Regions from separate parts of the Homo sapiens genome. Here regions 1, 3, 4 and 5 are each linked to region 2. Evidence: fine-mapped expression QTL. A gene starts in region 2. Each other region holds a variant in brackets. All regions are shown on one strand. Distances are from middle to middle.

Evidence for each region. PIP is the estimated chance that this variant, and not a neighbour inherited with it, causes the effect.
Region 1: its variant is the best candidate, but not a certain one, in a credible set for the expression of PTGER4 in whole blood (TOPMed, PIP 0.55).
Region 3: its variant is the best candidate, but not a certain one, in a credible set for the expression of PTGER4 in whole blood (INTERVAL, PIP 0.64).
Region 4: its variant is the best candidate, but not a certain one, in a credible set for the expression of PTGER4 in whole blood (TOPMed, PIP 0.72).
Region 5: its variant is the best candidate, but not a certain one, in a credible set for the expression of PTGER4 in whole blood (TOPMed, PIP 0.65).

Annotation. Positions count from the first base shown.
Region 1 is chr5:40,397,702-40,404,098 of GRCh38, forward strand. No RefSeq gene overlaps it. Among named protein-coding and RNA genes, the nearest start is that of LINC00604, 160 kb to the left of the region's middle. The variant T/C (reference allele first, on the strand shown) is at 3,887.
Region 2 is chr5:40,676,509-40,682,824 of GRCh38, forward strand. PTGER4 (prostaglandin E receptor 4) reads left to right here and starts at 3,407. Exons shown (of 3, transcript NM_000958.3): 1 at 3,407-3,970; 2 at 4,443-5,352. The coding sequence starts at 4,486. RefSeq lists a silencer at 3,070-3,289 and an enhancer at 4,425-4,952.
Region 3 is chr5:40,377,740-40,384,136 of GRCh38, forward strand. No RefSeq gene overlaps it. Among named protein-coding and RNA genes, the nearest start is that of LINC00604, 140 kb to the left of the region's middle. The variant A/C (reference allele first, on the strand shown) is at 3,017.
Region 4 is chr5:40,404,862-40,411,258 of GRCh38, forward strand. No RefSeq gene overlaps it. Among named protein-coding and RNA genes, the nearest start is that of LINC00604, 170 kb to the left of the region's middle. RefSeq lists enhancers at 322-1,521, 1,834-1,893. The variant G/T (reference allele first, on the strand shown) is at 2,193.
Region 5 is chr5:40,782,511-40,788,907 of GRCh38, forward strand. The region is part of intron 1 of PRKAA1 (protein kinase AMP-activated catalytic subunit alpha 1); the gene reads right to left. The region is part of intron 2 of LOC124900968 (a long non-coding RNA gene); the gene reads left to right. Among named protein-coding and RNA genes, the nearest start is that of PRKAA1, 13 kb to the right of the region's middle. RefSeq lists an enhancer at 1,874-2,018 and a cis regulatory region at 1,939-1,952. The variant G/A (reference allele first, on the strand shown) is at 3,962.

The DNA.
Region 1 (6,397 bases), 280 kb before region 2:
CATACTTAATAAATACCAGTTGAATGAATTAACCCTATATTATTAACCAAGCAGGTTTAATAGACACTATTTGCTGCTTCTTATCAATGTCAGCTTAATTGTTCCTCCTGAGTATCCATGGATATCTACCAGCCACATTGATCATGTTAAAGGTCATGAGGAGCAGTTTTACAAAAATCATGTATTACTTAAGTTTTTTTGGTTTTCTTACTATTATTCACTCCAACACAAGAATTTTAAAAAATTGAAATAGAATAATAATAAAAATCAACACGAGTAGTGCTATCTAAACCAAGTGATTTGGTGTACATTTTCTCATTTAATCTTCAGAGCAACTTGTAGTTAACATAATTATTCCCAGTCTACAGAAGGTTAAGCTGAGGATGCTTTGCTCATAATCACATGGCCAAGCAGAGACCATGTTTCTCAGCGCCAACCACATGTCTTTCTTACTTCATTGTTAGATTCACTGTGACTAGGGAGTACATAATCTCTCAAACCCATCCACACTCATTGAAGTCTATGGAAAACAAACTGGAGACAAAAACACCCATAGGCAACAATGAGTTGACTCTTTCTGTGGTTAGTTTTTCTCTGTATTTTTTCAAATCTATTCATTCTTCCTGACTACAGCATCATTTGCCATAGTCTTCTCCTAAGTCAATGTCATACTTCCTCTCAACCACTTGAGAGATTGCAGATCTTTGTCATTCAACATCATTTAATTTCCTGAATAAAGAAACAAAAAAAATGGAAGAGGTTTAGGTATACATCTAGAGTTGATTTTAATTTCCTGTTTGCCCTTGTAATTATGGTTTTTCTTCTTTGCTTTTGAAAACTATAATGAGTGTTTGAAGTATTACAATTACTTTCGATTGCAAAAACTGCAATTACTTTTGCACCGGCCTAATATATGTTCTATGTGGTCTTTCTCATCTTTAAAAGAGCAAGCAATTGATTATAACACAATGGTGTCAACAGCCATTGGATATCTACCAATTATCCAATAGGACAATTTATCTAATGAATTACCTTTTAGGTTACCTATATGCTTAAATTTGGTTACAACACACTTTTACACTGGTATATGTAAGATAGAAGAACATACAGCTCAAATCTCGAGTTCTCTTGCTGCCAATATTGATGGAGTTTATGAAAAATTAAAATGATGAAGCATACTTCAGGTGTTCATTTCCAAATGCAATGCATTTTCTATTTTTTCCATTTTAAAAATAATATGCACCCATTGTAAAAAGAAACTTCATCATTATCATCGTTAAATAAACAGAGGCAATTTCCTTCATAACCTCTTCTGTTCCACCTTCACCTCCAAGTCAACTCCCACTCCAGTGGTATTATGTTAATAATTTGTGTGTTTGCGTGTTTGTGTGTGTGTGTGTGTGTGTATACACGTGTTTCCAGGAAGAGACAGAAAAAATGCAGATATATAGAAAGCATGATACACATTTTTAATTTGATTATCTTTGCTTACTAATATATCATAAACGTCTCTCTTACCAGTATAATACAAATTGACCTCATGCTTTTTAATAGCTTCATAGTGTTTTATGGAATGCTTATACTACAAATTTGCTAAATCATTCCCCTACTAGTGATATTTTGACATACATTGACAGATATTTTTAATTTTTTTTATTGTGTGACAATCCACAGAGGACATCTTCATGTTTACATCTTTGTGCTCATTTGGGCATTACTACTAAAGAAAGTCTTAGACAAAGAATTCCTGATTCAAAGTGTATGCATTTTTAAAATGCAAGTCATGAGCTTTAGAGTCACACTGACAGTTCATATTACTTTCTTACTTCATAAGCCTGTTCAATTACCCTCCAAAGGGCTATGAAAATTTCTGCTTTCCACACAATGTATGAGTCGCCTTATTTCTTTACACCCTCACAGTGTGGATATCATCAACTGGCTTCACTTGAATTCCCCTGAAAGCAGGTCCTGAGACAAAAATGTGAAGGCAATACAGATGGTCACTGACTTCCAATGATTCCACTTATACTTTTTCAACTTTACAATGGTGCACAAACTATAGACATTCAGTAGAAAACAGTGTGATTCTCTCACATGATGCTGGGCCATGCAGTAAGCTGCAGCTCTCACTCAGCCACACAAAGGTAAAAATACCAGTACTGTACAGTACATTGTGTTGCCAGATGATTTTGCCCAACTATAGGCCAATGTAAGTGTTCCAAGCATGTTTAAGGTGGGCTAAGCTAAAGTATGATGTTTGGTAGGTTAGGTATATTAAATGCATTTTTGACTTAGTCATATTTTCAACTTACAATGGTTTATCAGGACATAACCCCATTGTAAATGGGGGAGCATCTGTAGTTTATTTTGAAGTTAATTCCAGGAATCACTATGAGGTTGCAAGGAGTAAGACAAGAAGTGGGGAACAAATAGACAGAACATTGACTAGCCAGTTACCTCTATTCGTAGTGTGGTCAACTATCACAGTTTGCATGGAATCAATGGGGTGTCCCAGGACACAGAATTTCCAATGCTAAAATTGGGACAGTTCTAGAAAAGCAGAGATAAGTTGGTTACCCTACTGTATGGGCAATTGGGCTCAATTATTCTGGAGACCCATGGAAAGGCCATATGGAACACAACTTAGGATTGTTCCAACAAAAGGCAAAGATGTGAAGTATTTATTCACCAGCCCTTAGTAGTTTGGAGGTACTCCAAGGCATTCTGGCTCAGTTACTTCCCATCTGACCTGTGCAGGGACAAAGCATGCTCCTGTGTCCAAAGATAGCCCACTGGAGGAAAGGTGCAGGAATTTGTTGTCATGTCTGAGAAATGTCTGCAGACAAACTCTGGGATCGGCCAAAAGGATGTGGGGGTGGGAGTGCCAATACCATCTATGCATGATTATTTGTCCCTAGTCTGATCAGCAAAATGATGCTATCTCAATATTGTTCTCATTTACATTCTCTAATGAGTGGGAATTTTGGACATAACTTCATATTTGCATCCCTTTTTGAGACTCAAGTTTTCAAGCATTTAAATACAGTTTTAGGGTAGGTTATTTTCTTGGCCTGGGACAACCAACTTCCATAATAGAAAAAAAATTTCAATCAGTTTACCTAAAATATGTGTGTATTGGAATGGAATGGGATGGGATAGGGGAGCAGGGTAAACTCTTCCAGGTGAATTAAAGGTGAGAATTAATGATTTAATTATAGTATTTTCAAGGCCACAATCCTTGTTAGACTTTCCTTTACCTTATTTTTAAAAAACTGTACATATGTATGGGGTAAGTATATACATATGTGTCATTATACATATTTATCATGTACATATTATCATATATTGTATACATATACATATCATTATATATTGTACAGTTTTATGTACAGTTTTTTAAAAAGGTACGTATGTATGGGGTACAATGTATAGTGATCAAGTCAGGGTAGTTAGTATATCCATCACCTCAAATACTTATCATTTCTTTGTGTTGGGAATATTTCAAGTCTTCTCCTCCAGGTATTTTGAAATATACAATAAATTATTGTTAACTATAGTCACCCTACAGTGCTGAAGCGGAATTGAGCTCCTTAAGTTTTGTACATCATGTTTTTTTAGGTTCCCACTGAGCTGATTTTTGGCCATGATTCACACATATCTCTCCTCCAAGGCTCCTCTCACAAAGCATTTCCTCCCAGTCACGTTTTCAAATAGCTTCTCATTCCCTGTATGCCTGTGTGTGCATGGCCTCATCTCACTTTCGCTGTGACCATTGCTGCTCATTTCTATTTCCTTCAAGCCTCATTTACTGCTGCCTAATTTGCCTTCTAGCTCAGAGGAAAGCAGAGATGTTTAATGGAGCTCTCAGAATCATCATTACTGAAAC[T/C]TGACACAGTCAAATCCCTTGTGTCCCTTAATACGCATAATATTGCTTAGCCTAAAAGCCACAGTCTGGGAGACTCACTGTATCATAATGAGAACATTCAGAAGATAACTAAATCATAAATTTAAACTTCAGATTCTATCACTTCATTGATTAAGCTCTCAGACATTTCCCCAACTACCTAAGACCTGTCATTATTAATCTTACCTGTTTTATTAATTCCATTTCACTGTGTTTCTTAACACATATGTTACAGCCTCCCACCAAGTCTATCCTCCAATCATGATTACAAACTGGCAGTACCTTAGAATGATGATCTTTTGATAGTTTTATTACCGAGCAGAAAGCAATCTGTATAGTTTCTGTCTCACAAATTAATTGCTTAGACTTTTCCTGCTAAGCTTCCACCTCAGAACTTGTCCCCATTTCAAAGAGTAAACCAACCCTCATTTTACAAAGATAGCAACTAAAATTCCAAGACATTAAATGACTTGCCTGAGGCTACACAACTCATGGCCACAGACAGAACTCTTCCTCCTAGGCTACTTGTGTTATGTCAGGGTGATTCATCTTCTCTATGCTTCTCTGAAAAAAACAGAATCTGTCAAGCAGTCATCTCCCCATCCCCCCACCTGCCTCAGACCCTGTGCTTCAGTTCTGTTCTCTACCACGACTCTACCCTACCCTTCAATCACTTCACTTCAGAGAAGCTAAGACCCCTTCAGAGCATTAGCATGTCCACAGGCATGGCATGAACTCCAGTCTTCTCCAGATACTTGGGCACTCACAGTGTCCTATCTGGATAGTCATTCACCTCTTTGTGAATAATGCATCTGCCTGAACAACTTAAATTCAAGGCCCCTGAGTGCATATATATTTATAGAATTCCTTGCACTCACCATTGTGCCTAAATGCCTATCGCAATTCATATGGTAGATATTTCACAAGTATTTAATGAGGATGATAATTATAACAATGTCATGGGAAGAATCAATTTTTAAAATTGTGTTGTGGAAAAAATATACACACATATATAATATACATATATAATACACATATACATATAGCTGTATATATATACATATATGTATATGTACATATACATATATAATACACATATACATATAGCTGTAGTTTTCTATTCTTAAGAATAAAATTAATCATATTGGGCTTGAAAGAATGGTAAGAGATAATGGCTTACCAACATAGTGCTGCCTGTACAGAGACCAGACCGGATTTCACAAGGGTGTGTATTTGTAAGAAGGTAAGGAACTTGTTTCTTTTTTTGTCTTGCTTTTGTTTTTGTGTTGCTGTTTATTAGAGCAACTGAATTACAAACCTGAAGAGATGAATTTAGGTTTAGAAAGCTGACAATTTTAGTAGACCCCTGATGTAAAATGCCTTTTTCAGTATACTTCCCCAGAGACGGCAAAGATCCTGGACCTAAAGTCAAATTCTGCAACATTAGGCAACTGATGAATCCCAAAGGTGATTGCCTGGTTGATGGGTGATGGTCAAAGGAGTATCAGACACAGGAGACCACTTCTGTGGGTCAATGAACAATAAGGCCAGGAAAAGGCAACTCACATGTGTAATCTTGCCACAGTTTTGGTAAGTAAGATGTTAGGAGTTTGAAATTCAGCCTACATCTCTGCCTTAAGGTATATGTGGAGATCTTTAAAGTGAGTGGTGAAGAAAGGGTTAAGAAATAGGATTTAATGGGGAATAGATTAAAAAAAATGAGAAGGAGTCTTAGCTAAACAAAAGAAGAAAGCGGGTTTTATTTTTGTTTTTGTTTTTGTTTTTTAATTTTCTGGGTGTTTAAAGGTAAGCAATGGTTTTTCATTTCTACCAGACTAAGACAGATTGCAATTGCCTTAGAGCAGTTGGGAATTTTGTAGGCAAAGGAGAAACCATATTAGGAAAAAAGAATATATCGCTAAGCTGACAAGATACTGTAAATACCCAAAACTAGGACTTATACAAGCCGAGGGGGTTAAGCTGCCCCTTGATAGACTGGTACAATGAGAAAAAACAAAGTTCGCATGTCTGATTATGCACGAATTTCCTGAGTGAAAATCTTAGCTTGGATTTGTAACCCAAGTCTTTTAATGCATTGAGGAAAGATTAACAGTAAGAGCCTAATATGGTTTGGATCTGTGTCCTCACCCACATCTCATGTCGAATTCTCCAGTGCTGGAAGAGGGGCCTGGTGGGATGTGATTGGATCATGGGAACAGACTTCCCCTTGCTGTTCTCATGACAGTGAGTTCGTTCTTACAAGATCTGCTTCTTGTTGTTGTTGTTGTTGTTGTTGTTGTTGTTGTTGTTTTTGAGATGGAGTCTCGCATTTTCCCCTGGGCTGGAGTGCAATGGTGTGATCTTGGCTCACTGCAACCTCTGCCTCCTGGGTTCAGGTGATTCTCCTGCCTCAGTCTCCTGAGTAGCTGGGATTACAGGTGCCTGCCGCCATGCCCGGCTAATTTTTTGTATTTTTAGTAAAGACTGGGTTTC
Region 2 (6,316 bases):
GACAGGAGAATTGCTTGAATCCAGGAGGCGGAGGTTGCAGTGAGCCAAGTTGCACCACTGCACTCCAGCCTGGGCGACAGAGCGAGAATCTGTCTCAAAAAAAAAAAAAAAAAAGGCCACTGCAGGTAAATAATCTCCTTTCTTTGCCCATTGGTCCAATCCACATGGGCGTGTGGTGAAACTGGAGGGAAAAAAAGGGAGCGAGCAGAATAAAAGAGCAGAAAGCTATTACTTTGAGGAGTGTAATTGTCAGAGCAGGCTGTCAGAGCAGCCTGAAGCAATCACTCAGTAGGGGCCAGCCTCCACAGCAGTAATTTATCACCACATGAAGATGTTGGGGAGTTAATCACAGCACTGACATGTGTCAGCTCCAGGCATTGGGCTCAGCATAAACTTCATGCTTAGAAAATGAAAATAATTAAGAGGGCACACATTTGAAATGTACCACTAAAAAGGGAAGGCAGTCATCTTAGGGTCAGGTGAATGCCATGTTTGTAATCCACTAAACCAACTGGAAGAGCCTGTGGAGGGCAAATGTGTCCAAGGGTACTTTGCTATTTGTACCTGATAGATGCCTTTCACACTGTTTTGAGTCTCTGCATGGCCTGTCATGAAAGAGAAAAGCAAACACAATTTGCACAGGCTTTGCTACATGAATATTAGTGCTTCAGGAATGCTCTAAGATCCTGCCAGCTGCGGCTCAGGAAGGGGTCCAGGCCAGATCTGACTCATCCTGCTGCCTTCCTCCTGGAAATGATCCCCTTTCTCACCCCACTCCTGCTGGCTGAGCCCAGGTCCTGTCTGTCCCATATTTCCTTTGATCCAAGGAAAACTAAAAGTGGTTACTAGCTCCCAAGCGGCCTTTGTTTATAAATGGGTTCCCACCTTAATATGTTTACTCAAAAAACTCGTCAAATAATTAGCTATAACAGAGCAATCAAACTGATCAAACAGTTCTTGGAGTAGTTCAAACCTTCAGAGAGTTATTTAATGACAGTTTTAAATAACTGAACTGGGGTCTTCCAGCATAGAGAAGTAGGGATTGTGGCAGAAACTGCGAGGGAGAATTTTTAAAGTGCTTAGAATAAAAATCTTTTCATTGAAAAAAAATGACAAGAATTGCCCACATAATTATGGCAATTTTTCCTTTCCTTTTGCAATGCAAATTCCTGGCAGAGTGTAAGAGAAACTGAGCTCCACTGTCCCAGTTTTTCAAACTAAGAAAATAAAATAATTTGCTACCTAAACTTTCAACTTCTACTTTTGAAAGCTAAATTTAAGTTTTAAGAATCGTACAACAAAAGAGACTACAGATAAACCTCATTACAATTTTTTAGTATTGAGCATTAGGTTATTTATTTTCCTTCTTCCTAAAGCTACTGTAGAAAGAAAATTCAAAGGACTAGTAAGAAAAATAGCTCAATTGATAACAAGTCTGGTTTGTCAATGACATGCTAATACCTGTAACAGTTACTAATTATCTCAGCAGTGTGTCTCAGTTTTTATATTTAATATATTCTTCATCATTCTTAAATTAATAAATAGCAACCAATTGTTTTCTCTTTTACAAGCTTCATATGGAAAGAAAATTGAAAAAAAAAATTTGTATTAGCAGAAAGTGAATATAAGGGACTTCCCAACCTCCCCTCCATATATTTACTGACAAGCAACTGACATGAGTGATAGCAAAGCAATGTGGTTAGTGAGGAATGGCGCAGAGTGTGCAGTTTCCTTTTTTCTAATGTTGATTTGTTTTCTGTGCTGACACAATCCTAGAGGTTACTGTTCAAAGGAAGCATCGACAACAGAAGTGATTAGAGTACTGATTAAAAGAAGATTTTTAAGAAAATGACCAATCACCATCAATCTTAATATTGGCTAACAAATGTGTATTTTTCTTTCTCATATTATTAAGTAAATAGTATAAACAGAATAATTCTTTATTAGTATATCCATATAGTGCCTTTTGCAAGTAAATATGATTCTGGATATTTTATGACCTGTAATTACTTGAAATCGGAAAGCCCTTTTAGTTTCTCTTATTACCCATGTGTTGCTGAGACTAACTGAAGAACCAGTTAGGAGGTTTGTTCGTTCACGAAATAACATTTAAGAAATGGGTACCTGCTTATCACATAAAAGAATCCAGTTATTTACTTACCCTGTGAGGAGACATAATATGTTAGAATGCTTGTACACTGCAGATGGGAAGAGGTTTTTCCAGGAATTTAAATTGTGCAATAAGGCCACACAATCTTACTTAAAAAAAATGGTGAAGGGGTTTTAATTACACCATGAAGTTTTACAATTTTTTAGGTTTTTAGTTCTGGTTTTAGAAAACAGAGTAGAAGGATTACAGAGAAAAACTTCACCATTAGACAAGAAGTCAAAATGATTCTAAGGGCCGCGCAAACAGGCTTTTCCAAGAATTAATCATGAGGTGGTGCTTGGAGAATTCCTTTACTCCAGTGACTTTGAAACCCCCTTCTCACTCTCCACTAGTCTTTCAAAGGATTCATGGTGAATTGGGTCTAACGAGTATAACACGGCCGGCCGAAGGCATGAAGCTCACGCTACCCTTTCAGGGCGGAGAAGTTCCCAGGAGGAAGAATGGAGAAAAAGATCGCAGTTAGGCAGTCCTCCCAACCTCACCAAGGCTCCACCTCTCTCCAAAGCCGCAAGGCTCTGCCACCTGCGCCGGGAGAGGCTGCAATCACTGTCTCCTCCTCTTTCTTTCTCTTTTTTTTTTTTCTTTTTTGCCTGGGGTGCCCGACCAAGCGCAGCCCGCAGTCTGGGCACTGCCAACTGACTCCAACTCCTTTTATGGTGAGAGGATGGATTCTTCGTTATTTCCCCGCCCAATCTGGTACCCACCCACCCACCCACCTACCACGTCCGCTGGGCGCACCCAAGTCTAACCCCGGGGCGCACGCGCTAGCGCAGACACCGTATTTCTTCTCCTTTCTCGGCCAACCCTAGGTAGAATCCTAAAACAACTGCCCTCTCTTCCACGATCTAGATGTTGCGGCCCGCGGACAGGAGGTTCAAGAAATAGTACACTCCGAGCGGCAGGCAGCGAGGCGGAAACGGTCGCCGGTTTCAGTGGTGGCCCCACTGGAAGCCGAGTTCAGGAGCGGCTAAGCGGTCGCCGGGGAAAGCACCGGGGCTTCCCAGGGTCCCCTCCGAGTTCCCACTCCGCACCTCCGAGGGCGTGAAAACCACGGGAGCCGCCCCACCCCGCGCGCCCAGCCCCGCCCCAGCCCAGACACCGCCCCCCGCCAGTCTTCCCTGCGGCGCCCAGGGAGGACGCGCTCCGCCCCCTTCCAATCCGGCCAATGGGCGCCCGGGCAGCGCGCGGTTTGCCTCCGCCTCCGCCAGGGAAACTTGGAGGAGGAGAAAAGTTTGTACAGAGGGTGGAAAGGCGAGAGCGGAGCTCCAAGCCCGGCAGCCCGAGAGGAAGATGAACAGCCCCAGGCCAGAGCCTCTGGCAGAGTGGACCCCGAGCCGCCCCCAGGTAGCCAGGAGCGGCCTCAGCGGCAGCCGCAAACTCCAGTAGCCGCCCGTGCTGCCCGTGGCTGGGGCGGAGGGCAGCCAGAGCTGGGGACCAAGGCTCCGCGCCACCTGCGCGCACAGCCTCACACCTGAACGCTGTCCTCCCGCAGACGAGACCGGCGGGCACTGCAAAGCTGGGACTCGTCTTTGAAGGAAAAAAAATAGCGAGTAAGAAATCCAGCACCATTCTTCACTGACCCATCCCGCTGCACCTCTTGTTTCCCAAGTTTTTGAAAGCTGGCAACTCTGACCTCGGTGTCCAAAAATCGACAGCCACTGAGACCGGCTTTGAGAAGCCGAAGATTTGGCAGTTTCCAGACTGAGCAGGACAAGGTGAAAGCAGGTTGGAGGCGGGTCCAGGACATCTGAGGGCTGACCCTGGGGGCTCGTGAGGCTGCCACCGCTGCTGCCGCTACAGGTGAGATGGCGTTGGGCTGACGTTGGGGTCAACGGGTAGAGAACGCAGGGATGCGGCCCTCGCCGAAGAGAGCCAAGAAGGGAAGAGCGCGCTCTCCAAATTGCTTTTGTAACTTGTTTTCAGTGAGCATTTTATTGATTCAGAATCTATCGAGAATAGCACTAGCGAGCTACTTTTCCCTTGAGATGGGTCTTATTCATCTTGGCAATGGAGTGAGTTGGATTGTGGGGAGGAAGAGGAATGGGAAAATCAGTTTATAAATATTAATGTCAGCAAGAGTGTGCTGTTGGCAGGACGTATCGCGAGCCTGGAGATTTTGGTGGCCGCAGTTGGTAAGTGGCTACAATCCAGAAAGTAGGATCGAGTTGCTCCCCTTGTCTTATCAGTGTATCGTTTCTCGGGCGCGGGTCTAACACCTTACAAGTGGTAATTTCCGCTCACGGCAGCTTTGTCTCTCTTCTACCATCCCCAGACCCAGCCTTGCACTCCAAGGCTGCGCACCGCCAGCCACTATCATGTCCACTCCCGGGGTCAATTCGTCCGCCTCCTTGAGCCCCGACCGGCTGAACAGCCCAGTGACCATCCCGGCGGTGATGTTCATCTTCGGGGTGGTGGGCAACCTGGTGGCCATCGTGGTGCTGTGCAAGTCGCGCAAGGAGCAGAAGGAGACGACCTTCTACACGCTGGTATGTGGGCTGGCTGTCACCGACCTGTTGGGCACTTTGTTGGTGAGCCCGGTGACCATCGCCACGTACATGAAGGGCCAATGGCCCGGGGGCCAGCCGCTGTGCGAGTACAGCACCTTCATTCTGCTCTTCTTCAGCCTGTCCGGCCTCAGCATCATCTGCGCCATGAGTGTCGAGCGCTACCTGGCCATCAACCATGCCTATTTCTACAGCCACTACGTGGACAAGCGATTGGCGGGCCTCACGCTCTTTGCAGTCTATGCGTCCAACGTGCTCTTTTGCGCGCTGCCCAACATGGGTCTCGGTAGCTCGCGGCTGCAGTACCCAGACACCTGGTGCTTCATCGACTGGACCACCAACGTGACGGCGCACGCCGCCTACTCCTACATGTACGCGGGCTTCAGCTCCTTCCTCATTCTCGCCACCGTCCTCTGCAACGTGCTTGTGTGCGGCGCGCTGCTCCGCATGCACCGCCAGTTCATGCGCCGCACCTCGCTGGGCACCGAGCAGCACCACGCGGCCGCGGCCGCCTCGGTTGCCTCCCGGGGCCACCCCGCTGCCTCCCCAGCCTTGCCGCGCCTCAGCGACTTTCGGCGCCGCCGGAGCTTCCGCCGCATCGCGGGCGCCGAGATCCAGATGGTCATCTTACTCATTGCCACCTCCCTGGTGGTGCTCATCTGCTCCATCCCGCTCGTGGTGAGTGACCGGGGCTGGGGCCCTACTCGGCCTTTTTCTCGCATCCACCTCCCGCGTCCATTCCCCGCTCCCTGCTTTCCCTCTGAGTCCTTGGCAGTGAACGTGTCGCCTTTAGGTCGGGGCTGGGATTCCCACACTGTTTCTCAGAGCAGGCCCAACCCTCTTTGAAGTCCCAACCCTAACGAGATTTAGCAGGTGCTTTGCCCCTACATCCCCCAGTTTATGTTCCCGGAAGCCTGGGTTTCTTTCTCCACCGAGACAGCCCTTACCCCTTGCTGCCTGACACTGGCCGAGTCTTCCAAGAAAACCCCCCGCCCCCTCTGTTAGACGTGGAGGGGAGCCTGCTGTAGTGTGACTTAGCCCATTCCTCCGTACTGTGAACTGTGAACTGCAAAACCTGAAATGTCAGGGATGGTGATCTGTTCGTTGTAAACCATTTTTAAGGAAAGTGGGGTTTTTGGTGTTTTGATGTATGCAAGGTTTCTTGAATTTCTTCCCCCGTGGATTGCGTAGAATTTTAAAGCTAGAAGAGATATCAAGAGGTGTTTTAGTCTAACTCCCTCACTTCACTGAGGGAGTGAATGATACGCTTAAAATAATCCAGCCGAACCTACACAGTCAAGCTAGGCTCCCTGCTCTTTACCATGGTGTGCCCTGGGAGGGCAGCTTAAAGCACACAAATTCTAATTCATATACAGGGCAGGGTCCAGACTCAGTTTCTTTCATTCTGTCTAGACCAGGAAAGCAAAGTTTCTCAGGGTGACTAATTATGGACAGGCTGATATACATAGGGTATGGGATTTGAATTCTCGACAACTGTGCGAGGTACAGTACCATTTTAGAGAAACCGAGGTTTAGAGATGGCTGTCTTTGTTTCTTCAAGCCAAAGCTCTACAGCTTGTAATGGACCTTAGGCCGTCTGAGGCCAGACCCAGCTCATGTGTTATTACATCACGTCTCCCTC
Region 3 (6,397 bases), 300 kb before region 2:
CATTGGGATTGGTAAGACAGATGGTATAAAACAATCATCACTTGACCTAGTTCATCTCATTATTGTATATTTTGCATAAACTCATCTATGTTATGACTTATTTTCATAAATATATGAATATATAGCCAGTGTTAAGCCATGGTAATTACAAGCGAACAAGGGACTTCCCAGACAGAATTGACCTGTGTGTTATTCTGTTCTAATTCTGAAGTCAGGAATTACTCTACCAGACCCATCCATTGCTAAAAACATTCTGGTCTTGTGTCTTGCCCATTCCAGGTGAGAAGAACCTGCTTAGTCCTACCTGTGGATTCAACCACAGACCCTGGCCACAAACATAGTGTCCTGGAAGAAAATTTATTGAACCTGTTTATCTCATTTCCTCCTGAAATATGTTAGACATAGTAATAAGAAGACCTTTGGAGTATTCTAGGCAAAGTATGGTAGAATCGAATATAGGACAATGGCAATAGGAAGGAAGAAGGAAGAGGATGAATTGTGGATGTTTCAAGGGTGAAATCTATTGGACCTGAATAATGATAGGATGAGAAGCCTGAGTAAGGAAAAAAAAAAAAGTCAAAAAAAAAAAAAAAAAAAAGACTACCAGATTTCCCAGTAAGGTAATGAAGGAGATAATTTGTGCCATCTATGGAGGCACTGAGAAAGAAGCTGAGGTTTTTGGCTGTTGATTTTGGCTTTCATTTGGTTTCACTTATGTTTGGTTGCTTTTTATTTTGGTGAGTTATTATGTTGGTGCAAAAGTGAGTGCATTAAAGGTAATGGCAAAAACCACAATTACATTTGTACCAACCTAATAGACGGTGGTTAGAGTGAGATGACTGACTTCATTTCAACTACAACAAGCACTAACTAACCAACTTCTCATTTCCTTCTCTTTGGTTTCTAGTCAACACTTTGTGGTTCTCTAAGGAACACAAAGAGAGACCCCAAAGCACTCACAAGACAGAAGTCCGGAAGTTCCTACATCCAAAAAGTTTCCTAAGGCCAGATGTTACCAACTGGCAACCATCAGACTGACTCTAGCCTTCACAGCATTAATACCTTTCATATACCTTTGAAATTATTTGCCAAGGTTTAAAAGTAGAGACGTTTTATTTTAAAATATAGATTTTTATTTTCTATGTTTGAGAAATAAGCACAGATTCCCACCAGGCATTATCAGTAGGAGCTGACCCTTCACACAGGGAATCTGCCCTTCGTTTTACCACTGCCTCCTCCATTCAGTTTCGTTTTTGAATAGTGCCTGCCTGCCTTCCCTAGGCATGCTATTTTAAATATCCGGCCTTAGGCCAAAAGCCTCAATAAGCTTCATAACCCCTTCCCCACTCTTTAAATGTTATCCCTCAGCTCCCCCTAGCCCAGGTTTGTGATTACCCCTAAGGACCATCCAAAGTAAAGGAGGAGAAATATTTTCTTCTTAATTACAGGGTGGACATTATTTTTTCTCTAACCACTGGATTCTGGGTAGGTGCCAATACTGTTTCACATTTCCATGGTGGCCCCAAATTCTCTCTCCACCTGTAGCCATTATTAGGCCTTTAGTTAACACTGTTTACCCCAAAGGAGACTTAATAGAGAGAGAAAATATAAAATGGGTACAGCTCAGGTGTTACATGCCTGGGGTCTCTGGATTTGGGCTAAACCTCATCTGATGAGTCCTCTTATAACCTGCTGTTTCCTGATGTTGAATTCCTAGACACCTAGGCCTAATCTGCCAGGTTAGACACCTAAATCCAACCATCCATAACAAACACTTGATTCCAAACACAGTATTTGCTCTTGGTAACTGTTACCTCTCAGTGCCCTCCTGCCCCATTCAAAACACCGGACATTAAGCCAACAGCATATCTCAGTGAGTCTAGCAGAAAATATGGGTATGAGTTGTAGCAGAATTATATATGGTTGAGGGAGAGCTTCCAGTGAAAAACTCTGTTATAGTTAGTTCTTCTTACTGCTGGAAATCTGCCTAATCTCTTGGGTGGCTTGAGGCAGAAAACATATTCAGAATCACTGGTGTATATGATTCTTGTTTTAGTCCATTCTTGCTGCTATAACAAAATACCACAGACTGAGTAATTTATGAACAGTAGAAATTTATTTCTCGCAGTTCTGGAGGGTGGGAAGTCCAAGATCACAGCACCAGCAGATTTTGTGTCTGGTGAGGGCCTTTTCCATAAATGGCATTTTCTCATGGTGTTCTCAAATGGTAGAGAAAACCAAAGGTACAATTGCTGTGTTCTCACCTGGCAGATGGGATGGAAGGGCAGACTGCTCTTTGAAGCCTCTTTTATAAGGATAGTAATCTCATTCATGAGAGTGGAGTGCTCATGGCCTAATCACATCCCAAAGATTCTACCTCTTAATACCATTACCTTGAGATTTAAGGTCTAACATGAATCTTGGAGGGACACAAACCCTCCATAGCAGTCCCCTTAAGTAACTCTACCTTCTCCCAATATCCACTTACTTGTGGACTAAAGCCGTCCCTCATGAGTTTCCTATCATGCCATTACTTCCTGGTTCCTAGGTCCAATACCTACTTCTTTCTCACTGGTAGCCCTGGAAAGCTGGCCACTACCCTGTCTTCTAATCACATTTTGACTTCAAGTGTGTGAGGATGCATAGCCAGTTATAAATCTGAGAAAACTACAATTGGATCTGAAAAACTAATTTTATCATGTGAAAGTTTTCTTATTCATTCATTCAACATGAATTGAGCATCTAATATATGCCATGTGATAGAAATGCAGAAATGAGTAAGACATAATAATTGACCTAGTAGAACTGGCAAAATGTATGAATTCTGTAATTCAACATGGTAAATGCTCTAATAGAGGCAGATCACAGCTTTATGGTATATTAGAAGGCATAAACAAGGGGCATCTGACTTATAGAACAGTGTTCCTCAAACTTTATCATGCTTCTGAATCACAAAAAATCTTGTTAAAATGAAGACGCTGGTCTTGAGCAGGGCTGAGAACCTGCATTTCTAACA[A/C]GCTCCCAGGTTATGTCAATGGTGCTGATCCGTGGACCAGTCTTGTAACAAATTCTAGTGACTTGAAAATTAGCATGAAGAATGTTAGAATTGGGCTCCCTCTCTGGTGAAATTAACAGTGTTTGAGACATTTGGAATAACTAAATATTTTAGAAACAGTCTCCACCTTTGTCTTCATAAGAAACCACTGAGACCTATACCCTGAGTTCCTTAGGGAAAGCACTGACTTTAGTCACTAATGAGTTGGTGTCCAGCCAATAGTTTAGGACGGCACAAGAGCCAACCTCTGAATGTCACCATGTGTGCTTCGGGTGAATATTTCTTCTGTGTTGTTAAAGAACCTCCAATGATAGTTCACTTGAACTTCGTCAGACTTACAGACTCATTTGGTGCCTGCTCCTCTAATAAATGTCCATATGTATAATAGACCATTATCTGAAATATGCTGTCATTACAACCTGGGCTTGCAGTTATGGGGAGTGGCTAATCCTCAACGACTCACTCTTTGATTGCTCCTGTTTTCAACTAAAACCTGAAGAGTTGTTGGCTAAGTTTGGTCAGTTAACAATATCATATCTGTAAAATCAAGGTAAAAATGCTCACCCTGCCTACTTTACACAACAAATTGAGATGAGATGTGCTTTGAAAACTTGAAATATAATGAAAGTACTAGCTGTAATTAAAAGAACGTAGATGCTTTTCCTACAGTATCTAGTTAAGATAAAAGTTTCTGAATTTGTGATTATAAGAATAGTCTAAGGTTCCCATTAAAAAATACATACTCTTGGGTCTTATCATTGGAAATTTTGGTTTAGTAGTCTGGGGGAACTATATATGTACGTACAATATATGTAATAAGCACCCCTAAATGATCCTTGTAATTGTGTCACCTGCATTTTACAGATATGATGTTGTTAACCGATCTAACTCCACCAACAACTCCTCGGGTTTTGACCAAAAACAGGCGCACTCAAAGAGTGAATGAAATAGTGAGAAGTTAAGAAATTCTGCATTGAACAATGGAATTTAGTGCACACAAGAGAACTCTACCTCCCATCACCAGTTTAATTATGCCAGATAGTACGTCTATACCATTACCATTACTACAAATGACTCATGGCAAATCCTTCCCACTCACTTAGCTCCTTTCCTCCTGAGAGTTTGTATAAAACATTAGAGACTACGTTGACAGTATGCATAATACAACCTACAAAAATATGTGAGAAGATAAAATTTGAGACTTCCAATATAATAACTTTTTTTCTTAATCATTTTATAATCAAGAAATTGCCCTTGCCTGGAAGTTATATCATTTGAACTTTTATCCCCAAGATCTTCAAAAAACAATGAGTCACTTAAAGATGTCATCTGGTAACTATTTCATTCTAAAGCTGTGCTATATTATGTTCCTTAAAGGTGTGGCCACCAGAAGAACATTACTTTATGATGAATAAATATCCTCTGTTACACTTATGTTTATGTAAAGTATCTATGACTAAAACAAACTTACAAGGTCATCTATGTACCAAATTATAACTGCCACCTAAAGACTCACAGGTGGAGAGTACACATGGATTACTTAAGTAAATTTCTTACCTGAGAGTCACAACTGGCTGGATGAATCCTCTTTTACCTCCTTCAGAGAAACAGACCTATGACTCTAACTAGACAAAATTTCAGACTGAATCTCTTAGAGAATGCAATCAAGTCTATTGATTCAATTATAAAGTGCTACTTTGGTTACAGGGTGACAAACTTCCAGATATTATTATCCCTAAAGGTTATATAGGCTGAAAATCTCAGTCGATTTAAGATAAATCTGGGCTGAAAGATCATAAATGGGGAAATGTAGGACATTCCAGATACAGCCTTTACTTGAAGGTTGACAGAAGGAGGATAAACAGATGCCTGCAGGATGATCCATGGTGACACTGTCACAGGTAAACTGAAGAGACTGTGTCCAAGTCAATCAGTATGTGTGGAGGATTTGTTGCTATTTGTTCTTCTCATTTTTCCAATGTGATCGAAGTTCCTTAGGTTTAGCCCAATAAACATCTCCCTCACTACTAGTGACCACAGCAAAAAAAAAAAAAAAATGTGTGTAACAAAATATGCACTATAGAGGATCAAACTGTTTTACAAAATCTTCAAAAACCTAAATGTTTTCTTAGCAAATGATGGCATGTCCTTCAAACACTAGAACACTATATTGTTTATTTTGCTTTCAGGCTGATTATAAGGTAAATTCAACTCAGAGAGACTTGATCTTCTTCCTAATTTACCTGCTTCAACAAGAAACCATGAGTGTTCATTATCAACCATATTTTGAAAATTGAATAATAAATAATGGTAACTACTTTATTAATAAAACAAATATGTTTTTAATTAAGTGACTGTGGCTGCCAGGCTCCAGAAAGTTAAAATGCCATCAATAGATAGGCAGTGAAATTCTGAAAGCAGTTAAATTGCAGAGTACTTGAGAACTGGTAATTTTAGATGAAAGACAGCTAAGACACAAATTTAAAAGCCTATCCATTGTTCCTTTTTTAAAATGATATGAAGAGATATTGTACATCACAACTGCTATGGACTGAATATTTGTGTCCTCCCAAAATTCATATTAAAGCCTATATCCCCAATGTGATGGTATTGGGAGGTTGGACTTTTGGGAACTTACTAGGTCATGATGGTGGAACCATCCCCTAATCTCATTCATCCTCCACCATGAATGAGATTAGTGCCTCTATAATAAGAGGCAAACAAGAGATCATCTCTCTCTGCCATGTTAAGATATAACAAAAAAACAGCTGTCTGCAAACTAGGAAGAGTGCACTCACCAGATACCAGATCTACCAGTGCTCTGATCTTAGACTTCCCAGCCTTCAAATTGCATAGTATTTTGTTTAGTCTATGGTATTTTGTTGTAGCAGCCTGAGCTGATTAAGACAATTTTCTTCATAGATCATTTTCTTGGGAATGGTGGTAAGATGCTCATAAATGCTTAAAACTACACATAACAATCACACAGCTAGAAGAGATCCCAGAAAATCTTTCAAAGAAAATTCAGAACCAAAGTTCTGGCTCTCACTTTATCTCCAGCCTTAAATGAGCTGGAGAGTCAGTTATGTAACTAAATGTCTCATGCCTCAGATTCCTCATGCATTCATTGGGAAGAATGCCTGTGCAATGTGTCTTTAGGGTTACCATAGAGATGAATGAGGTAATGTATAGAAGAAGCACAATCCCAAATAATATTTCCCTTACCATAACTTTTCTGCTAAATAACATCTAAAATTTTAGCCCTTGTTTAATTTAGCCTCATATTTCTCGTCTCTTGCCCTTTGTAACTACTGTGCCAAACTTTCCACTTTATGATATACA
Region 4 (6,397 bases), 270 kb before region 2:
CATGTATACATACATATAGTTCATGAGGCAGTGTAAAATGAGGAAATCTATTTTTTCTACTTGGATAGAACTGGTAGAGTTTGGCACAATTCCACTTTAAAAAATAAAGTATTCAGTATTCCTTGTGTAAGGTGTTGCCAGAAGAAGAAATTTGCTGAGAAAAAAATTCATCCTTTCTTTGCAAGGAAGATCTTAGGACAGTGGCATCAACATGAGGCACTGCATTGACAATGCTTTTGCATTCTGCTTTGATTTCTTTTTGGAAGTTGGTAGAGGTAAATCACAATTTATTTTTAATAATATGAAACTGTGAAAGTTAAGTATGGATAATGACAAGGAAAAGTATTTAATTCTGTCTTTATACCTGGACTTGAAAAAGAACAGTAACCATTCTAGCCATTTAATGGAATTTCTAAACCATATTATCCTTCCCCAGAAATGGACATCAAGTTCTATGGATCAAAAAGCTGTAGCTGACCTTAGACTCCAAAAAGAACCCAGTAGGCTGGACTTAAGCATGCTGGAGGATGTTCACATTCTTAAGTCAGGGTTATCGTAAGTTATTTCCTGCATTTCATCATAACTGGTCACATGTGGCCACTTGTCAGATCTGGGACAAGCATTTCCAAAAGCAAATAAAAGTGTGTATTTTTTTCATCTTTCTAAACAGCTCTGAGTTCAGATCCTGTCAAGGTTACCTTCCTATGATTCGTGAAGATGTCATCCTAAAATATAAAAGGAAAGTACATTGGTAAAAAGTCAACCTTTGAATTTTGTGCTTGGAGTCTTTAGGAGTCACTGATTAGACTACAAACACCCTTGTCAGCTCTATTCTTTTAGGTCTCATCAGGACTTTCTTGGCCACCAGCACACAGCAAAGCTCGGAGGGACCGGGACCCATGTTTAGTACCAAGGTGGTAGGTTGCGATGACGGCAAGTAGACACCACAAGAAGCTGAAAGGGAATTCAGGGTAATATAACCTCTTTGGAATTTCAAGAGAATGAAGAACAAAATTTGTCTTTTCAGAGGGCTGAGATTTAAAAACCACCCTGTCAATGACTCCTGAAAAACCAAGAGAAGTTTGGATAAAACTCCTAGTGATTAGTTCCCCAACTGCTTATACCAGGTAAGAAATGATAGCTCTTCAGAGCTCCCTTTCCATATCTAAAGAACTTGAATTGTTCTTTGAGGCAATTTGAGGCCACTGTCCCAGTGGAAAGCTTATTTTCAAATTGTGTAGCGTGCTACTATATCAGACTCTGAAACACTGCATGTGCTAAAGTAAGTCAGAGATGCCTAGTCAGATTAGGAAAAAAATATTGTAGGCAGGCAACCAGACAAATTTGGCAAGAAAGGATGTCAGGGGGATTTCCAAAGTCTCCTAACTGAGGGACAATCGTAGTGACTATGAATAATTCAGAGTGAGTTAACGAAGAGGATCCACCAATTTCAGAAACTATATAATATTTTTGAAGAAAAAGAGAGTTTAAGGACTATGAAAACACATGTCAAGAAATATTATTCTTCTTTTAATTGTTTTCAACAAGAAGGTCCCCCTTAAATATCAATTCTGCCATGAAGAAAAATAAAGGAAAAGCTGTTTCATAGAAAAGCTCTCCTCCTGGCAAGATCTTACCACAGATGTTTTTCAGATCTTTAAAGATGGATTATTAATGGTTTAGCTCTCCACTACATTATAAAGCATTTTTCAAAGGTTTGTTCTATCTCTGTTTACACTATCTGATAATAATAAAGCAGAGTTCGTTTTTAGCCAATGAAAATGACTCTTCACAAGGCTGTACATTTGTTTGAACCCAGACAAGCCACAAAAAGTACAAACTCTTCTGCATGTTCAAAGTTCTCGAAACACACATGCCTAACACCACCAACAACAAAGACAGGAACCGCGGACCAGTTCTCCAGTCCCAGCCTCAATTTTTTGAGTAACTGCTTCACCATGTAGAGACCTTGCTCTGATCCATCTCTGCATCAGAGAGAAAAGAAAGAAAAGAAAAACGTACACTCCTATTTTCATCACTAAGACAGGCCCTTTCCTTTCTCTGTGTGAAAACATTAAGAGTTTATGGTTGCCTGGAGAAAATTTACAATCTGGCCCCACAACCTCATGTGACTTTTTATAGAACAAGGAAGTACGGGAGCCTATATGCAACAGTGACAATGTGCTGTGGCC[G/T]CTCAGTGTTGGCCACAACAGCTTCAGTTACTGAAAACTCTGACCAACAGGGGAAATGTACAAGGAGGCTATCAGGCATTAGCTGTGGGAGAAGAAAACAAGTTCCCCTCGGGGCACAAAGAGAAAGCAACTGTTATGGCAGGTCAAGGCCTAGAGCTGAAAGAAAAGGAAATACAATTACAAAACCAGATGCAAGGCAGCAGAAGGGTCTGGATTTCTCTTTCAGCTGGTGAATCTACATATGGCTATAACCTTGCTGACCTCTCTGGTCATCAAACCACAGCAGAAGGAGTGCCCCAGATGATGAAGAAATATTATAGTGTTTGGAACACCTTACCTGTCCATAAAATGTTGATGTATTTAAATATCTATATCCTGTGTGCTTATCATTTGTGTTCTTCTTGTGTGTTACAAGTGACTAGATTTTCTCCAAAAAATTCTATAAACCAGGCCCTAAACTGACATTATCTTAGCTTGTGTTTTCTTTAGCTATTTCTACACAGTGAAAGACAGGGCTGATTCTTCTTTCCAATGAATGAAAAAAATAAATTAGGCCAGGTGTGGTGGCTCACACCTGTAATCCCAGCAGTTTGGGAGGCTAAGAAGGGCAGACTGTTTGAGCCCAGGAGTTCAAAACCAGCCTGGGCAACAGGGTGGAACCCCACTCTACAAAAAATAGAAAAATTAGTTGAGCATGGTGGCAGGTACCTGTAGTCCCAGCTACTCGGGAGACTGAGGTGGGAGGATCACTTGAGCCCAGGAGGCCAAGGCTGCAGTGAGCCATGATTGTACCACTGTACTCTGGCCTAGGTGACAGAGTGAGACCTTGCCTCAAAGAAAAAAAAAAGTATATCTTCCAAATGATATTATGTAAGATGTCCTTAAGTATAGTATATAGGAATGTAGTTTAGAACTTCTCTCCCGGAGAGCTGGGGTTCAGGGTGGGCCTGCAGGCCTCCTAGCTTCTCTTTTAAGTATTTTAGGAGGTGAAGTAGACTGTTTTGGGGAAGAATCACTTTCTGAAAAAGGTACCCAGTGTCCTTTGGCTATTCCCTCATAACCCTGCCCAGTCTGAGCTGGTCCTCTCTTTGTCTAGACACCTGACAATTCCAGGGCTCAGAAATGAGAACATAAAAGACAGTTTAAGAAAGATAATATGTTAGAAGGACAAAGGAGGCTGTCCTACATAACGGAAATAAGTGAAGTTAAAAATCAAACTAGAAGCGCCCTATGGCAGATTAAAGATGGCCACAAATTCTTTAACACTCTTCCTTTTGAGAGATGGGGTCTATTTCCCCTCCTTTTGAATCTGAGCTTGCTTGTAACTGCTTTGATGCATGCAGTGTGGCCGAAATGACACTCTGCCCTCTGGGCGTTAACTCTAAGAGAACTGGCAGTCTCCACCTTGGTCTCTGGGAGCTTTGAGCCGCCACAGCTCTGACTGCCTTGCTCAAGAGATCATACGGAGAGGCCCTGAGACTATATGGAGAAGGGGCCAGCTGAGCCCCCTTTCCCACCATCCCCATCAAGGCAGCAGGCACAGAACCCTCCAGAGCAGCCTGGGCACCGGCTGAATACTTCTCCAGTAATGCCAGTGAAACCGTGTGGAGCAGAAGAATCCCCAGCTAAGCCCTGCCTGAATTCCTAATCCACAAAAGTATGTCATATAAATAAATAATTTATTAAAATGGTTATTATTTTAAATCACTGGGTTTGGGGTAACTTGCATGCAGTAATAGATAACCAGTACACAGCCTCTGAGTAGAGTACATAATTTTTAGAATAAAATCTCCAATTGTGGAAAGTGTGATAAATTCCAAATTTTTGTGGTCAGTTAAAAAGAAGATTACATTCTAGGTGTGTATGTTCCACAACATGTATACAGAGAAGAGAAAAGCTAAGGAGAAAAGACATGAATCTCTTGCCTGCTGGCAAAGCTTCCCCAAACAGATATTCTTCCAAAGGCTGCATAGAAGCTGGATCATTGTAAATCTCTCCAACAAATATCTACTGAGTAACTGCTACAAGTACATCACTGTGTTAACCACTAAGGTTTTAATAATGATAAAAATATAATTTCTGCCCTGGGAAATTTTTCTCTCTTGTGTACCATTAGCAAATTAATATGTAAATTTTAAAATTGGTTTAAATCAGAGGTTGACAAACTTTTTCTGTAAAGAGCCAGAGAGTGAATGTTTCAGCTTTGTAGGCCAACTCTGCCAGTGTAGTGCAAAAACAACATTTTAGACAATACATAAACAAATGAAAGCAATGGAATCCCAATAAAACTTTATTTGTGGATGCCAAAATTGGAATTTCACATGATTTTCATGTGTCTTGAAATATTATTCTTCTTTTAATTGTTTTCAACAATTTGAAAATATAAAATTGGTCTTTAATACACAGGCTGTACAAGAGGCAGTGGGCTGAATTTGATCCTCAGGTATAGTTTGCCAACCTCTTTTTAAAATTCTTATCAGATGGGCCTAAAGCAGGTAGAACTTGCAAAAAGTTAAAGAGCATTATCAGACGAATTTAATGTTCTGGATTGTCATGGATACAAATAACCTGCCTTCTATTTCCAGTATTCTCCATGCATAAGGAAGGGCATGAACTTATAGCCTGCAAGAGCAGCTTAGAGTTTTACCAGGGAGGAGCTCTGGGAAGCATCAAGACCCCAGAGGAGGGGAGGACTCAGCCCAAGGAAGGAGAGAAGGAACCATAGAGATGAGTGGGAGGGCACGTCTGCAAAGGCAGCCGGATGTTGTGCAAACATTCAGCAAGAAGCACTCAAAGAGCGAAAGTGGGACTTCATGGAGAAAGAACAGTGTGACAATATTTTTTAAAAATTTTCCCCCTTTGTAAATTCCTAGTGCCTTCGAGTAAAGCTGTTCATGGAGCATATTTAAGACATCTAGAGCCAAGTAAATTGGAAGCACAGAAATGAATACAGAAGAAAATTTAGGACATCCTTTTTATTGAAAGGAGTTCATCAGGTTGCCACCTACCCTTCCTTTAAATTTTGCTATTCCACTTTATGCTGAAATAAGCTCATTTTGGCAAAAGACTTGCTAAAGACTTGATGCTTTGTATATTAATGTTTTGTATTTGCTTTGTTTTTATATAAAGAGCCTTCAAAAACTATTGTAAAAATTAAAAATATATGCAATAGATCTCCACAGTAACAGTGCACAAACATGCACCCTGCCCCACACCATCCGCCAAGTACGATTATATGATTGCTTAAATGAGCTAACTCAGAAGAAAAAGGAAGTCTGAGACACACACATTTCTACGCTTTGTATTCAGAGATGATGTGTCTCCTGGTGTATATTCCCCCTGCATCCTTCTCATGCTTTCAACGTCATGAAGGTATAAAAGTGTACTCCCTATCACCAGGGTAGCAGCCGTGACCTACATTTTCTTCATGTTCTGATGCTGTTTGTGGCTTCCTCTTCCCTTCAGGCAGCGCATGATGTCTTTGTTCAAAGCACTCTTTCCAATAGCTGATGACTTAGTGTCAGGCAAGTCCACAGCTGTTTCAATCATTCTGTCCACACAGACACCAAACAACAGGAATTAGGTATGCATGGAAACCAACCTAAGATAAGAGTAGTCTGCTCTGGGGAAAAAATAGAAAGTCATTTCACGATATACAGGCAACATTTTGTGTGATTTATTTGACATCAACTGGATGACTAATCGCTGTGGATTTCTTTTCACTCAGATCACATGATTCTTCTCTAGGGTCTCAATCAACTATTTCCATTTTGCTTAACGTAAAAAAATCAGAAGCCTCCAACAGTCAACAGTACCATTTTTAAAGTAAATTTTGTACACCTCCCCCACTCCCCAATCATGCCCTTTTTAATTACTGCTTTCGCTCTCATTAAAAGAATATAAGTTTAAAATTTCGAATGTGGATGTCAAGTTTTGCTGTTATCTTTAGTGTTGTTTTCTATATGAATGAGCCTAGCTTTCACACTATGGACACAGCCTGTTTAGACAAGAGCAGTGCTTATGTAATCATAGCTTCCCAAACCACAGCAACAGCACAAATTTGGCAGCTAGAAGGAAGGAAGTGAGGGTGGGGAAGGGAAAAGGAAAGAAAGGGAGTTTCTGTTTCAATCAAAGATATATTTGGCTCATATTTCCACCTCTTTTAACTGAGATTCCAACTCTACAGGAGGTCCTCTCCACTCATC
Region 5 (6,397 bases), 110 kb after region 2:
AAAACAAAAAAATGAATAGACATTAAACTCATCCATGAAATGCATGATTGTATTAGCAAAATTTATTAACTATTTTCAGAGTGATAAGAAAATATAGGAGGTATGAAATTAGAGCAGAGCAAGAAGAATTTTACAATACAATTAAAATCATTTAGAAAACAGTAGGTAGTAGCAATAATAATGTGATGGGAAATTTTATAGAACACACAACAAAAAATGAGGAGGAAATTAGCAAAAATAGGAGGGAAGGTGGTAACTACGGAATAGGGAATTGAGTATAATTTAACTCATGAGTAATACGGAGCAGAATATTAATCCACCTGTAAATAACAGAAGCCCCCCAACCACCCAAAAGAAGGCATAATAAGCAGAACAAAATCCATAACCAATCAAGATATACCATAAAACTTTTTTCTAATACTTGAGCATTTCATCAAATTATAAATTAATTGTTTTAAAGTATGGTGGTATAACTTCTTCCCTTTTGAAGTAATAGAAGAAATCACAAAAGTATGATCGTATCACAGTGGCAGGAATAGAGGCAGTGCCCTGACAGCCATGCCAAGAGATCATTCAAATTCATAAACACACACACAAATTACATGATCAGGATCTTTTCTTTTTTAATCTGTAGTTTTCCTTCTAAGAATTTGATTTAAAAGTTGATGAAAAAAATGTGCATAAATATGTTCATTACAGTGTATTATGTAAGAACAAAAGGCTGACCAATTTCAGAGAACAGTTTAATACATTGTTATTCCAACCTAACAGACTCTCATAGGAAAACTATAGAAAATGTTCTTACAAACATAAAAAAAAATTATATATGCATTTTACATTTTTTAGCTACACAAAAAAATCATATAAAAATGTTAATATGCTAAAATGAAAAGTTATTCCACTGTGATCCTTTTTGAATTTTACTTGCTGCTTTGTATTCTTATCAGTTAGAAAAAAAATTTCCAAGGCCGAGTGCGGTGGCTCAAGCCTGTAATCCCAGCACTTTGGAGGACGAGGTGGGTGGATCACAAGGTCAGGAGTTCGAGACCAGTTTGGCCAACATGCTGAAACCCCATCTCTACTAAAAATACAAAAAAAATTAACCAGGCGTGTTGGCACGCACCTGTAATCCCAGCTACTTAGGAGGCTGAGGCAGGAGAATCGCTTGAACCCGAGAGGCGGAGGTTACAGTGAGCGGAGATCATGCCACTGCACTCCAGCCTGGGCAACAGAGCGAGACTCCATCTCAAAAAAAAAAATTTCCAAAGGGGAAAAAAACAATTGGAAGTAGTATTAGCAGATTCACCTTTTTTGGAAGTAGAGTTGAATAGGGTTGAACCCCTAATTCCAATTGCACATGTGAAAGCAGTATGTATACAAAGCATAGATTTTATAGTCGCACAGACCTCGGTTTTATTCCTGTTTGAAGGTACTTACTAGATGTTTGACTTGGGCAAGTTAAAGAAACTACAACCTTCTATTTACTCATCTTTAAAATAAGAATACCACATACTCCATAAGGGTGACTATAACAGATACATGGAATAGTGTTTGTAAAGCACTTTCCACAATGCCTGGCATATAGCAAGTGATTGATAAATAAATGGTAGCCTTTATTATTTAGGGTTATTTATTTTCCACTGCTCCCAGACCTGTTCCCCCATCTGTATCTAATCAGCCCTGAATTATTTGTTTTAATCTCTGAATAGCCAGTTTTATCTCAGCTCTGATTGGTGATACCTATCCATGTAGATGCAATAGCATTCCTTTATCCAGGTACATAAGTGCTAAATAAATAATAGCTGTCATTTTAATGTATCTAGCTCCCATTCCCATATACTTCAATCCCTCCAACCCGCTCCACCACTCCTACCCCACCACCACTACCACCAATCCTCAGATTTCTACCTTCCAAAGTTCAACTCATTTCCTGACTTTGGTTAATGTTCAACAGATTACTATCAGACATATATACACATAACACCAATCCTTGACAGTGATTTCACCTACTACAGGAACACTTGTTTGGTCACAGAAGAACACAGAGGAAAAAAGCAGCTTAATTTGATGTGAGTTTTAATAAACAAGGGCTCTTTTTTTAACAAAAACAATTTTTTACAACATAAATCTAGTTCCTTTACAATACATAATTAAAGTATACAACTTACTAGTTAATATTTGCAGCATACTCACTTTGTACCCAAACATACTGACACACTCTCACCAACCTGGAAGACTTGGCATTATTAGCAACATTTTACAGGAAACTGAGGCACAGAAAGATGAAATAACTTGCCCAAAGTTACACAGCTAATGAGTGGAAAAGCCAAAACTTCAACCCAGGTCAGACTCTTAAAGTTATGCTTTTTCCGAACATGGTTAAGTGAAATTTGATTTTTTTAAAAAGATAATCCTCAGAAGACATGTAAAAATACACATCCTTTTAATAAAACATAAATGGAAGTTAAACATATCAGAGAAATTCTTAATGTATATACAGTTTTGAAAAGAATAGACTGAATTCCTTGTAGTAATAAGAATTATCCAGAAATGCATTCAATCATACAAATTCATTCATTCAAGAAATATTTGAGTACCAGCACCTACTATGTGCCAGGCACTGCTACTATGACCTCCTTCCTGTATCAGAACATGAATCCAGTGTACTGAAAACCTGCCTCATATCAATTTCAATGTCTTAGGATTCCACAGACATTTTATTTTATTTTATTTATTTTTTATTTTTGAGACGGAGTTTTGCTCTTGTTGCCCAGGCTGGAGTGCAATGGCATGATCTCAGCTCACTGCAACCTCCGCCTCCTGGGTTCAAGCGATTCTCCTACCTCAGCCTCCCAAGTAGCTGGGATTACAGGCACCTACCACCTCGCCCGGCTAATTTTTGTATGTTTAGTAGAGATGGGGTTTCACCATGTTGGTCAGGCTGGTCTTGAACTCCTGACCGCAGGTGATCCGCCCCCCCTCGGCCTCCCAAAGTGCTGGGATTACAGGCATTAACCAACCACGCCCAGCCCACAGACATTTTACTAATACATTCTATCAAACCAATTTAAAAGTTACTCAAAAACTAAGAAAGAAAGCATAAAACTAAAAGTATACAAAATATAAAAACAAGTGTAGTGAAGTGAATAACGTCCCCACAAAATCTATGTCAACCCAGAATCTCTGATTGTTATCTTATTTGGAAATAGGATCTTTTCAGACGTGACTAGTGAAGGATTTGAAGATGAAATCTTACTGGATTTAGGGTGAGCCCTATATCTAATGCCTGGTATCCTTACAAGAAGAGGAGAGCACACACACACACACACAGAGAGAGAGAGAGAGAGAGAGAGAGAGAGAGAGAGAGAGCAAGCGAGCGCAGCCATTTGAAGACAGAGGCAGAGACTGGAGTTATGCTATCACAAACCAAGGAACATCAGGAGCCACAAGAAGGTGAAAGAGGGCTGGGCACGGTGGCTCACGCCTGTAATCCCAGCACTTTGGGAGGCCGAGGCGGGGAGATCACCTGAGGTCAGGAGTTCGAGACCAGCCTGGCCAACATGGCGAAACTCCATCTCTACTAAAAATAGAAAAATTAGCCAGGAGTGGTGGAACACACCTATAGTCCCAGCTACTTGAGAGACTGAGGCAGGAGAATCACTTGAACCCAGGAGGCGGAGGTTGCAGTGAGCTGAGATCATGCCACTGCACTCTATTCTGGGTGACAGAGTGAGACTCCGTCTCAAAAAAAAAAAAAAAAGCAGCAGCAGCTGGAAGAGGCAAGGAACAGATTCTCCACTAGAGCCTTCAGAAGAAACATGGCCCTGATGGCCCTTTGATTTCAAATTTCTCACCTCCAGTACTGGCAAAGAATAATTTTCTGTTGCTGTAAGTCATTGAGTCTGTGGCATTGTTACGGCAGCCCTAGAAATGGATATAGTTAGTTTATCAGTTGAAAAGT[G/A]GATTTTCTAAAGAAGTACCAAACAGTAATCATAGAGCTGAGGAATAGTATAACTGAACTGAAAAATTCAATAAAGGGGTTCAACCACAGGCTACATCAAGCAGAAGAAAAGATTAGTAATTAGAAGACAGGCCACTGGAAATCATACAATCTGAAGAAGAAAAAAGGATAAAGAATGAAAAACAGTGGTCAGGCATGGTGGCTCACGCCTGTAATCCCAGCACCTTGGGAGGCCGAGGCAGGCAGAGCACTTGAGGTTAGGAGTTCAAAACTGGCCTGGCCAACATGGTGAAACCCTGTCTCTACTAAAAATACAAAAAAAAAAAAAAAAAAAAAAAAAAGCTGCCAGTGGTGGTGCACGCCTGTAATCCTAGCTACTTGGGAGGCTGAGTGGAAGGATCACTTGAACAGAGCAGGCAGAGGTTGCAGTGAGCCAAGATCTCACCACTGCACTCTGGCCTAGGCAACAAAGTGAGACTTTGTCTCAAACAAACAAAAAGAAACAGAAAAAGAAATGGTAAAGAAACTTCTTCAAGCTGAATAAAGAAGACACTAATGAGTGACAGGAAAACATGAAAAGTATAAAACTCACTGGAAAAAGTAAGTATACTGTCAACCCCAAAACACACTAATACTGTAATGGTGGTAAGTAAATGAATTATATATCTAGTATAAAGGTTAAAAGATAAAACTATTAAAAATAGTTAAAGCTAGCCAGGCGCGGTGGCTCACACCTGTAATCCTAGCACTTTGGGAGGCCGAAGCGGGCATATCACCTGAGGTTGGGAGTTTGAGACCAGCCTGACCAACATGGAGAAACCCCGTCTCTACTAAAAATACAAAATTAGCCGGGCGTGGTGGCGCATGCCTGTAATCCCAGCTACTCACGAGGCTGAGGCAGGAGAATAGCTTGAACCCAGGAGGTGGAGGTTGGGGTGAGCCAAGATCACGCCACTGCACTCCAGTCCCGGCAACAAGAGTGAAACTCCATCTCAAAATAATAATAATAATAATAATAATAATAAAGCTACAATAATTTGTTAAAGATACAAATTATTTTTTAAATGTATATCGTGACATCATGAACATAAAACATGGAAGAGGGGGAGTAAAAATGTAGAATGTGTGTATGTGATCAAAGTTAACTTGTTATCAGCTTATATACCAGTTATAAGATGTTTTGTGTAAGCCACAGGGTAACTACAAAGCAAAAGCCTTTGCTTTTGCAAAAGATAAAAAGAAAAAATCCAAAGTGGACCACTACAGAAAGCAATCGAGCCACAAAGGGGGAAAGTAATAGAGAAAGGGACAAAGGTTCTACAGAAACACTAGAAAACAATTAACAAAATGGCACTACTAAGTCCTTACCTATCAATAATTACTTCCAATGTAAACAGATTAAATTCTCCAAACAACAGGCATAGAGTGGCTAAATGGATAAAAAACAAGATCCAACTCTGCGCTGCCTATAAAGAGACTCACTTCACCATAAAGGACACTCATAGACTGAAAATGAAGGGACTGAAAAAGATATTCCATACAAATGCAAACAAAAAGAGAACAGAGATAGCTATATTTATTTCAGACAAAATAGACTTTAGGTCCAAAGAGAACAAAGCTGGAGGCATCACACTACCATGTTTGAAAATATATTACAAACCTATAGTAATTAAAACAGCACGGCACTGACATAAAAACAGACATGTCCACCAATGGAATAGGATGGATAGCCCAGAATAAATGCATATATCTATAATCAATGGATTTTTGACAAAGGTGCCAAGACTACACAATGTGGAAAGGACAGTCTCTTCAATAATGTCATTTGGAAAACTGGATAGCCACATACAGAAGAATGGAAATGGACCCTTATCTCACCCCTTAACAAGTATCAACTTAAAATGGATTAAATTTAGGACCTGAAATTACAAATCTACTAGAAGAAAACTTAGGCGAGAAGCTCCATGACACAGGTTTGGGCAATCATTTCTTGTATATGATCCCCTAATGCACAGGCAACAAAAGCAATAATAAACAAATGGGATGACATCAAACTAAAAAGCTTCTGAACAGCAAAAAACAAACAAACAGGCCAGACGCGTAATCCCAACACTTTGGCAGGCCGAGGCAGGCGGATCACAAGGTCAGGAGTTCGAGACCAGCCTGACCAACATGGTGAAGCCCTATCTCTACTAAAAATACAAAATTAGCTGAGCGTAGTGGTGCACACCTGTAGTCCCAGCTACTCATGAGGCTGAGGCAAAAGAATCGCTTGAACCCGGGAGGCGGACGCTGCAGTGAGCCAAGATCACGCCATTGCACTCCAGCCTGGGTGACAGAGGGAGACTGCATCTCAAAAAAACAAACAAACAAGCAAAAACAAATAGAGTGAAGAGACAACCCAAAGACTGAGAAAACGTATTTACAAATCATGCA